Linked DNA regions of Homo sapiens. The protein of the gene in region 2 interacts with the protein of the main gene of each other region in a pairwise test. Each region holds a gene or a part of one and is shown on either strand. Other genes may lie near its edges. The genes, in order: PAX2 and BLID.

What was found.
Region 1: the proteins of BLID (region 2) and PAX2 interact in a two-hybrid assay, tested with the Homo sapiens proteins (one large-scale study listed by BioGRID and IntAct).

The regions. Positions count from the first base shown.
Region 1 is NC_000010.11:100,776,290-100,780,110, reverse strand, and holds part of PAX2 (paired box protein Pax-2), read right to left. Parts: intron 614-3,821; coding exon 528-613; intron 1-527. UniProt on the Homo sapiens protein: Transcription factor that may have a role in kidney cell differentiation. Has a critical role in the development of the urogenital tract, the eyes, and the CNS.
Region 2 is NC_000011.10:122,114,782-122,117,978, reverse strand, and holds BLID (BH3-like motif-containing cell death inducer), read left to right. Parts: upstream 1-1,763; 5' UTR 1,764-2,056; coding exon 2,057-2,383; 3' UTR 2,384-2,639; downstream 2,640-3,197. UniProt on the Homo sapiens protein: Functions as a proapoptotic molecule through the caspase-dependent mitochondrial pathway of cell death.

The DNA.
Region 1 (3,821 bases), on a different chromosome or scaffold from region 2:
AGAGCTACACCTAAGAAGAAGAGAGAAGAGAGGGAAGGGCAGAGGGAGAAAAGAAGAGGAGCCAAGGGGAGAAGACAGAGGACAATGTTAAGAACAAGATGGAATGTTAAACAAAGATGGAATAAGAAAGTTGATATAAAAGAAAGAGGGCACAGGTAGGGAGACAGAATCAGATAAAAACAAAAGATGTTGGAGAATGAGGGAGAGGGAAGCAGGAGGAGGAGAAGAAGAAAAAGAAGAAGAAATGCTAGAAGAAAAACACTTAAGAGAGAGGAGAGGAGGGGAGAGGATAGGGACTGACTAAAGCAGGGCAGAGGGAGGTGACACAAGTGGGAGGCAGAGAACAGTCCTAGAGAACCAGTATCTCTCAGGAAGACCCTATGTGGACAGGAGCTCAGGTGAGAGGAGTTGGCAAATAGGTTGGGCTCTGGACCTCAAGCGGGCAGGCAGTTCCCAGGGGTGGAGCTGCGTTTCCTGCCTTTCTCTAGGTGGGATCTGGTTTCCTCCCCTTCCCTGAGCCCTCTTACCAATGGTGTGGCCAGGGGCGGTCACTCCTGTCCCAGCCCCATCCGGCGTTGGGTGGAAAGGCTGCTGAACTTTGGTCCGGATGATTCTGCAACAGCGTCACAACAGCATCACACATCAAATGCCCACTCCTATCCCGGCCAATTCCAGCCCAGCCCTGCAAAGGGGCTCTCTCCCAAGTTCCTCAGCGATTTCCTCATCCATCTGCTCCCTGTGTCCCTGCCCTCACTGACTGCTGCAAGGCACAGGGTTTTCCTTCTGTTGGCTCCGCAGATCCAACGTAATGCAGCTCTGGGTGAATGCAGCCTGCCTTATGTCCTGCTATGTGCATCACCCAAATTATTGTTTGATTTTTGGTAGCAAAGATCAGGGCAGAGACCCAGTGAGCACAGCATCCTTTCTTTTTCTGCAGGGTGAGGACTGCCCTAGTGGCTTGTTGTCCACCTTTCTCTCCTCAACCACACACGCATCTCTTCCTGGTACCAGGACCTCCTGGGTTTTGAGATCATTTTGGAGCTGGCTTTCCTACTTGGGACTGTGTCACAGTCCTTCAGAGTTGAGAGGATGAGATTTCCCCATATCCTGAAAGAATGAGAAGTAGCCAGGGAGGGGCTGGGTCACAGGTGACCCTTTCTTTTGTCCCCAGGACTCCAACACAGCACACAGTCCCTTTGCCAGATGTCAGGCTGAACAATCTCTTCTTGAGCCCACTTACTGCCCTCAAACAAGTCAGAGCCCTGTTCCTATATGGCTGGCTGGTTTGCTGGCCTCCTTTTCTGAGGTTCTTACTTGGATTGCAGCGTCTTTGCCAGCCTGGTTGAAAGGTCTGGTGCCCTCCCTGTACATCCTGGGGAGAAGGGGCCAAATCAAACATTCCAGGAGCCTGCTTTTCAGGGATCTGAAAAACCGAGGGCTCAATGATGCCAAAGACCAGTCCCAGGGCCAAGACGGAGGAATGCTCCCCCTACCCACTGGTCAAATGAGGGGCCTTTGGAAGCCACTTTTCTGATAGCGTTCCTTGTCCCCACAGAGAGGCATGTGAGCCAAGCTCACCTCAACCAGCCAGGTGAGTCACAAGCCATGAGCAAGTCAGCTCTAAAAGCTTTTCCTGAACACTTGCAGGCAGTTGGGATAAGGCCCCTAGCTCACAGTGCTGGATATGAAGGTGGGGAGGGGAGACTTAATCCCCAAAAAAGCTCAGTTACCCGAGGGAATCAGGTAGTTAGTGCTGGAAACTTGGAGGAGAGGAACCATTCCCCTTGCAGGAGAGGGAACTGCGGAAGAAGTCGCTGAACAGAGGGAAATTGATGTAGATCTTCAAAGCCAAGTAGGGCTGAAATCAGAGGCACAGAGGATGGCGGAAAGGACACTGGGCTGCATGGCAGGGGCCCTGAGTCCTGCTTCTGATTTTGCATTTAAGAAGCCACATAGCCTTGGTCTCACCTCTCAACTTCTCTGGGCCTCAGTTTCTTCAGCTTTAAATGAAGGGGTTGGACTACAGGATCTCCACTGTCTCTTTCCCCAGTAAAAAATAACTTGATCCTAAGATGAACAAAGAAGTAGAGGGGAGGGCATCACAAGCTGGTGGAAGCGGAAGCCACGCGAGCCTGCTGCCTTCTGGGTTAATGCCCAGAGTGGTCAGCCAGAATGAGTGGAGACAGGCAAGGGACTAAGAGGAAACAAGAATGAAAACTTGGATGTGATGAGAACCATCACCATTTTCCACTTACTGAACATCTACTATGTGCCAATATTATACACAATTTATATGACATATATATTACTGTTAATTCGCACAACCACCTCCAAAGTAGAGACTATTATCCTCATTTTGCAAATTGAAAACCAAAGCTGAGACAAGTTTAAGTAGCTCACTCAAGATCACACTACTGGCTGGGTGCAGTGGCTCACGCCTGTAATCCCAGCACTTTGGGAGGCCAAGGCGGGTGGACCACCTGAGGTCAGGAGTTTGAGACCAGCCTGGCCAACACGGTGAAATCTCGACTCTACTAAAAGTACAAAAATTAGCCAGGCATGGTGGCAGATACCTGTAATCTTAGCTATTCAGGCAGCTGAGGCAGGAGAATTGCTTGAACCCGGGAGGCGGAGGTTGCAGTGAGCCAAGATCAAGCCACTGTACTCCAGTCTGGGCAATAGAGTGAGACTCCATCTCAAAAAAAAAAAAAAGGCCAGATGCGGTGGCTCATGCCTGTAATCTCAGCACTTTGGGAGGCCGACGCAGGCAGATCACGAGGTCAGGAGTTTGAGACCAACCTGACCAACATGGTGAAACCCCAACTCTACTAAAAATACAAAATTAGCCAGGTGTGGTGGTATGCACCTGTAATCCCAGCTACTCAGGAGGCTGAGGCAGGAGAATCGCTTGAACCCAGGAGGCGGAGGTTGCAGTGAGCTGAGATTGTGCCTCTGCACTCCAGCCTAGGCGACAGAGTAAGACTCCGTCTCAAAAAAAAAAAAAAAAAAAAAATCACAGTACCAATTAGGGAAGACTCAGAATGCAGCCTCTAAAATCTATGCTTTTTGTTACTTTGTCATCCTGCCCCCAACATGTAGGAACCAGGTTTAGAGGGCCTTAAGCCATGAGTGATTTCTAAACTAGGGGGGATCTCTACAAACAGATCCCAGTAAAGCAACATACATATACATGAGGCATGAGGCGATAGGGAGCTGGTCTCAGGAAAGAAAGGGAAGAATTTGCAAGACAAGAGGAAGGCAGAATGGTCAGAGTTTGGCAACCAACTGGAGTCAACCATGGTTTTACAAACTCAGATTTGTGTAACTGGAAGCTTGGTGGAGTTTACATCAGCAGGTCAGGAATAAGGCTATAGGGAGGTGACTGGTTTTGGAGGGAAGTGGTGATGTTGGTCCTAGATGTGCAGCATTTGAGGTGAAAGAGGAGCGTCCAGGGGCAATGCCCCTGCATCAGCAGGCACACAGAGGTATGGATTTAGGAGACTGTCAGGGACCGGGGAAAGGAGTGTTTAAAAGACAAGAGGCCTAAGGAGTGGATACTGGAGGACATTTATTTCCAGGGACTGGGAAAAGAAACTGACCTTGCAAAGGATTCAGAGAATTAATTGCAGAGGAAATGGCAGAACCAAGATAGGTCAGTTTCACCTAAGTCAGTGGAGAAGAATGTTTCAAGAAAAACACAACCTGCAGTGCCAACAGCAACATGGGGACCGAAGGGAATTAGGAACAAGAAGAAGCACAGATTTGGGATTCTGGTAGCCATTAGTGACCTTGAGGAGGAGTCTCAGCAAAGCGACTGGAGC
Region 2 (3,197 bases):
AGCTTTCTCAGTAGATTATGAGTCTCTTTTATAAAAATGGTATGCATTATTTATTCTTCATATTCCATGTCTCACATTATAATAAATTTTAAAAACTGTTAAATTGAATAGATTTGCCACAAAGTACAGAAAATTAGTATTCTATAAACTCAAAGAGAAGAGGCCAAATAGAAATCTGGAAAGCATTCATCAATAAAGAGAGGAAAAAAACATTGCAAAGTTCTTACTATATACCAGATCTTGTGATAATTTATATTCCTTCCCTCATTAATCCCCCAAATAATTGAGCAAAGAAGATATTATGGTCCCCATTTTACAAATAAAGAATCTGATGTTCAGTAAGGTTAAGTACTCTGCCCAAGTTCAGAGTTATTAAGCAGCGGACTTTGGTTTGAAATCTATATTGAATGATCCCATTATCCACATCCTTACTTTTATGCATTCAGTTTTCCACAAGACACTTGATGGAATTTCTTATACTACCTATAAATTTTGCTAGAGTAGAACATTCTGTGTTCCCCCTAATTGAATGTTACAGGCCCCTCTGTAAATTTAGGAAAGTTCCAAAGTGTTCCCTGGATACTTGTTCTGCCTCTAGCATGAAATGTACAAAAGTAGCAGAGAAGATCCAAACCAGACTTTGCTCTCAGAGTAGGCTGCATAACTCCCTCTTGTCTTCTCCACTGGTCTACATCAGTCTTTTGTCTACAACCCTGACTTTTTTAAAAATGGTATTGGATGCTACCATTATGGTTATGGTTAACTGGGGGCATCATTGGTGCCTGAGTTTCTACTCAAATAACATAAGGGAAATCAAGAGACCAAGGCCATGATGACTCAAGCAGTCTCCATGGCTTGGTGGTAAAGGAGTGAATCCTTCCTTACAGCTGATCTTGCCTTTGTATATGTCACATATTGGTCCTGATTAGAAAGGTCTATAGGCTAATTTGTGCAAGACACATTCCTTCTCATTATACCATGATACAGGCCATGTGAAACACCAGATTCAATCTTATAGCCTCTCTGCTGCTGCTAAGTAAGAAACTTCTACTTTTAGTGTCTTTTCTCTCTCAACACAAAAATACTCTGTAAGTCACCCAGATCTGGGTTGCCCATGATTACCAGGCTTTTCCCAATTAGAAATATGACTCATGTTCCATTTTACCAATACATCTCAGGCACAGAACTAGCAAGGAAAGACAAAATTAAAATGTTTCTGTAATTCCAGCCCATCAATTGAAACAAGATGTTTCTGAACTTTTCCCAATGTGAAGAACAAAAAGTAATAGCATTTTGTTTATTTATTTGTGTACAACACTGTGGTCAGGAACTTGTTGCTTCCCCAGGGAAATTGCTTGCAAGCATCACTGAGAAGAGGACTTAACAATTCACACTGATCATTCCCTGTGGTCTGCCATGGCGAGGGTGATACTTTCATGTTTTATAAGCACCAGACAAGAGAGCTGGATCAATTTTCTCTCTCGATATTCTAGTCTCTGTTGAAACGACTCCCTCAGACATCAGCAGCTCCGGGTTCTTTCTAAAAAATAAAGTAAGTACTCTTAGGTCTGTTCACAGTAAGGGACAAGAAGTCCAAAACATATCCCTGCCTTTTACAATTCAGAAATCAACGTGGAGATCTTTCCTACTTTTAGGCAGTACATACAGCTTCGCTGAGGTCTGTGTGTCAAACTTACTGAGAGGAGGACATCGTGGAGACTTATCGTTAATTAGCAATGCTTATGCATGCAAACCTTGGTCAGATGATGTTGTGTTTGGAGAAAAGAGAGAAGAGAATTGAATAAGTACATGACCCCTTGGAAGCTGTTTTCAGTTGAGGATTTTGGTGAGTAGCCACTTGAAATCAAGGGAAATTCCATGAATAGCAGGAGCTGGGAAGAAAGGAAGAGGAGGAAGGATCCCACCACTTTTTTCTTCCCATCTAACACCGTGCTTATGCAAAGCATAGTCCATATGAGATCTGCCTTATAAAAACTTGCTGAATAAAGCGAATGGAAGTTAAATTTTGGACTTTCTTCCATAATAGCTTCAAATTATGGTGACTTTGTTGCCTATAGAGGGCCAGGAAATACATTTCTTTGAGATCCTAGAATCTGAGTGTGTGCTCTACACAGGATGGATAGAGCGAGCCTCTGGCAGTTCCATTTATCCAGAGGCAAAAGCACGCCTGCCACTGGAGGCGCTCTTGGGTTCCAACAAAGAACCTATGTTGCCTAAGGAAACAGTGCTTTCTCTTAAAAGGTACAATCTTGGCTCCTCTGCCATGAAGCGGAATGTTCCTGGACATGTGCTTCAGAGACCTTCCTATTTAACCAGGATACAAGTTACATTGTTATGCAATTCCTCTGCTGAGGCCCTGTAAAAGGAGTGAGTTAGGACAGATGCAGCAAGATATTAGGACAGATTTCGCCCATTATTCAGGCTGCACAACACAGAAGGAAACTTGATTTCAATAAGACCCAATTCTTAACAGTCTTTTCTACCCACTTTTACCCATAACTTTTCCAAATTTGGTTCAAATTGTGCAGAGAAACAATAAAATTTTTAAAAAGGATAAACTGGCTAGTTAAAAGTAAATGGCATTTAATTAAAACAAATCTTGCAAATTCATGAAAAAACAAAAAGCTATGTGATGGTAAACCTTAGGGCAGCGTACAGTGCCACTGTCCTTTGCAGTTTTGAGTGTATTTCATTTGTACATTGGAAGTAGGTACTTGTCATATTATTAACAATTACTCTACTTAGTTGTACACTCAGCATTTGGCATCAGAATAATCTTGTGTAGTCACAGGGTTTTCATTTTCTTTCTGTATTTTTTAAGCATGTTTCTGAGTGGTGGTTCACATAAGCTTTCAATTTTAAATAACACAATCCATTTATTTCACTAGGCGTCTTTATTTGCTTAAAGTGAAGAATCAGAGATTGTCATTGTGTTGTAAATAAGTCTAACCTTTCTTTCCCTTTACAAAAAAAAAAACCTGTGGAACTGAAAGAAATAGAAATTCCAGTAATCTTTTATGAACTCTGTTATTAGAGTGAGTAGAACTAAATCTGTGGGGAAAAAAGGAAAAGGAAATGGAAAAGGTGTTTCAGAGCTTTTACTTTAAGCTATTCTAGTGTCCCCTTCTCTGCTTTCTTTCCACTACCCTGACCCATACCTACCCACAGTGAGAACT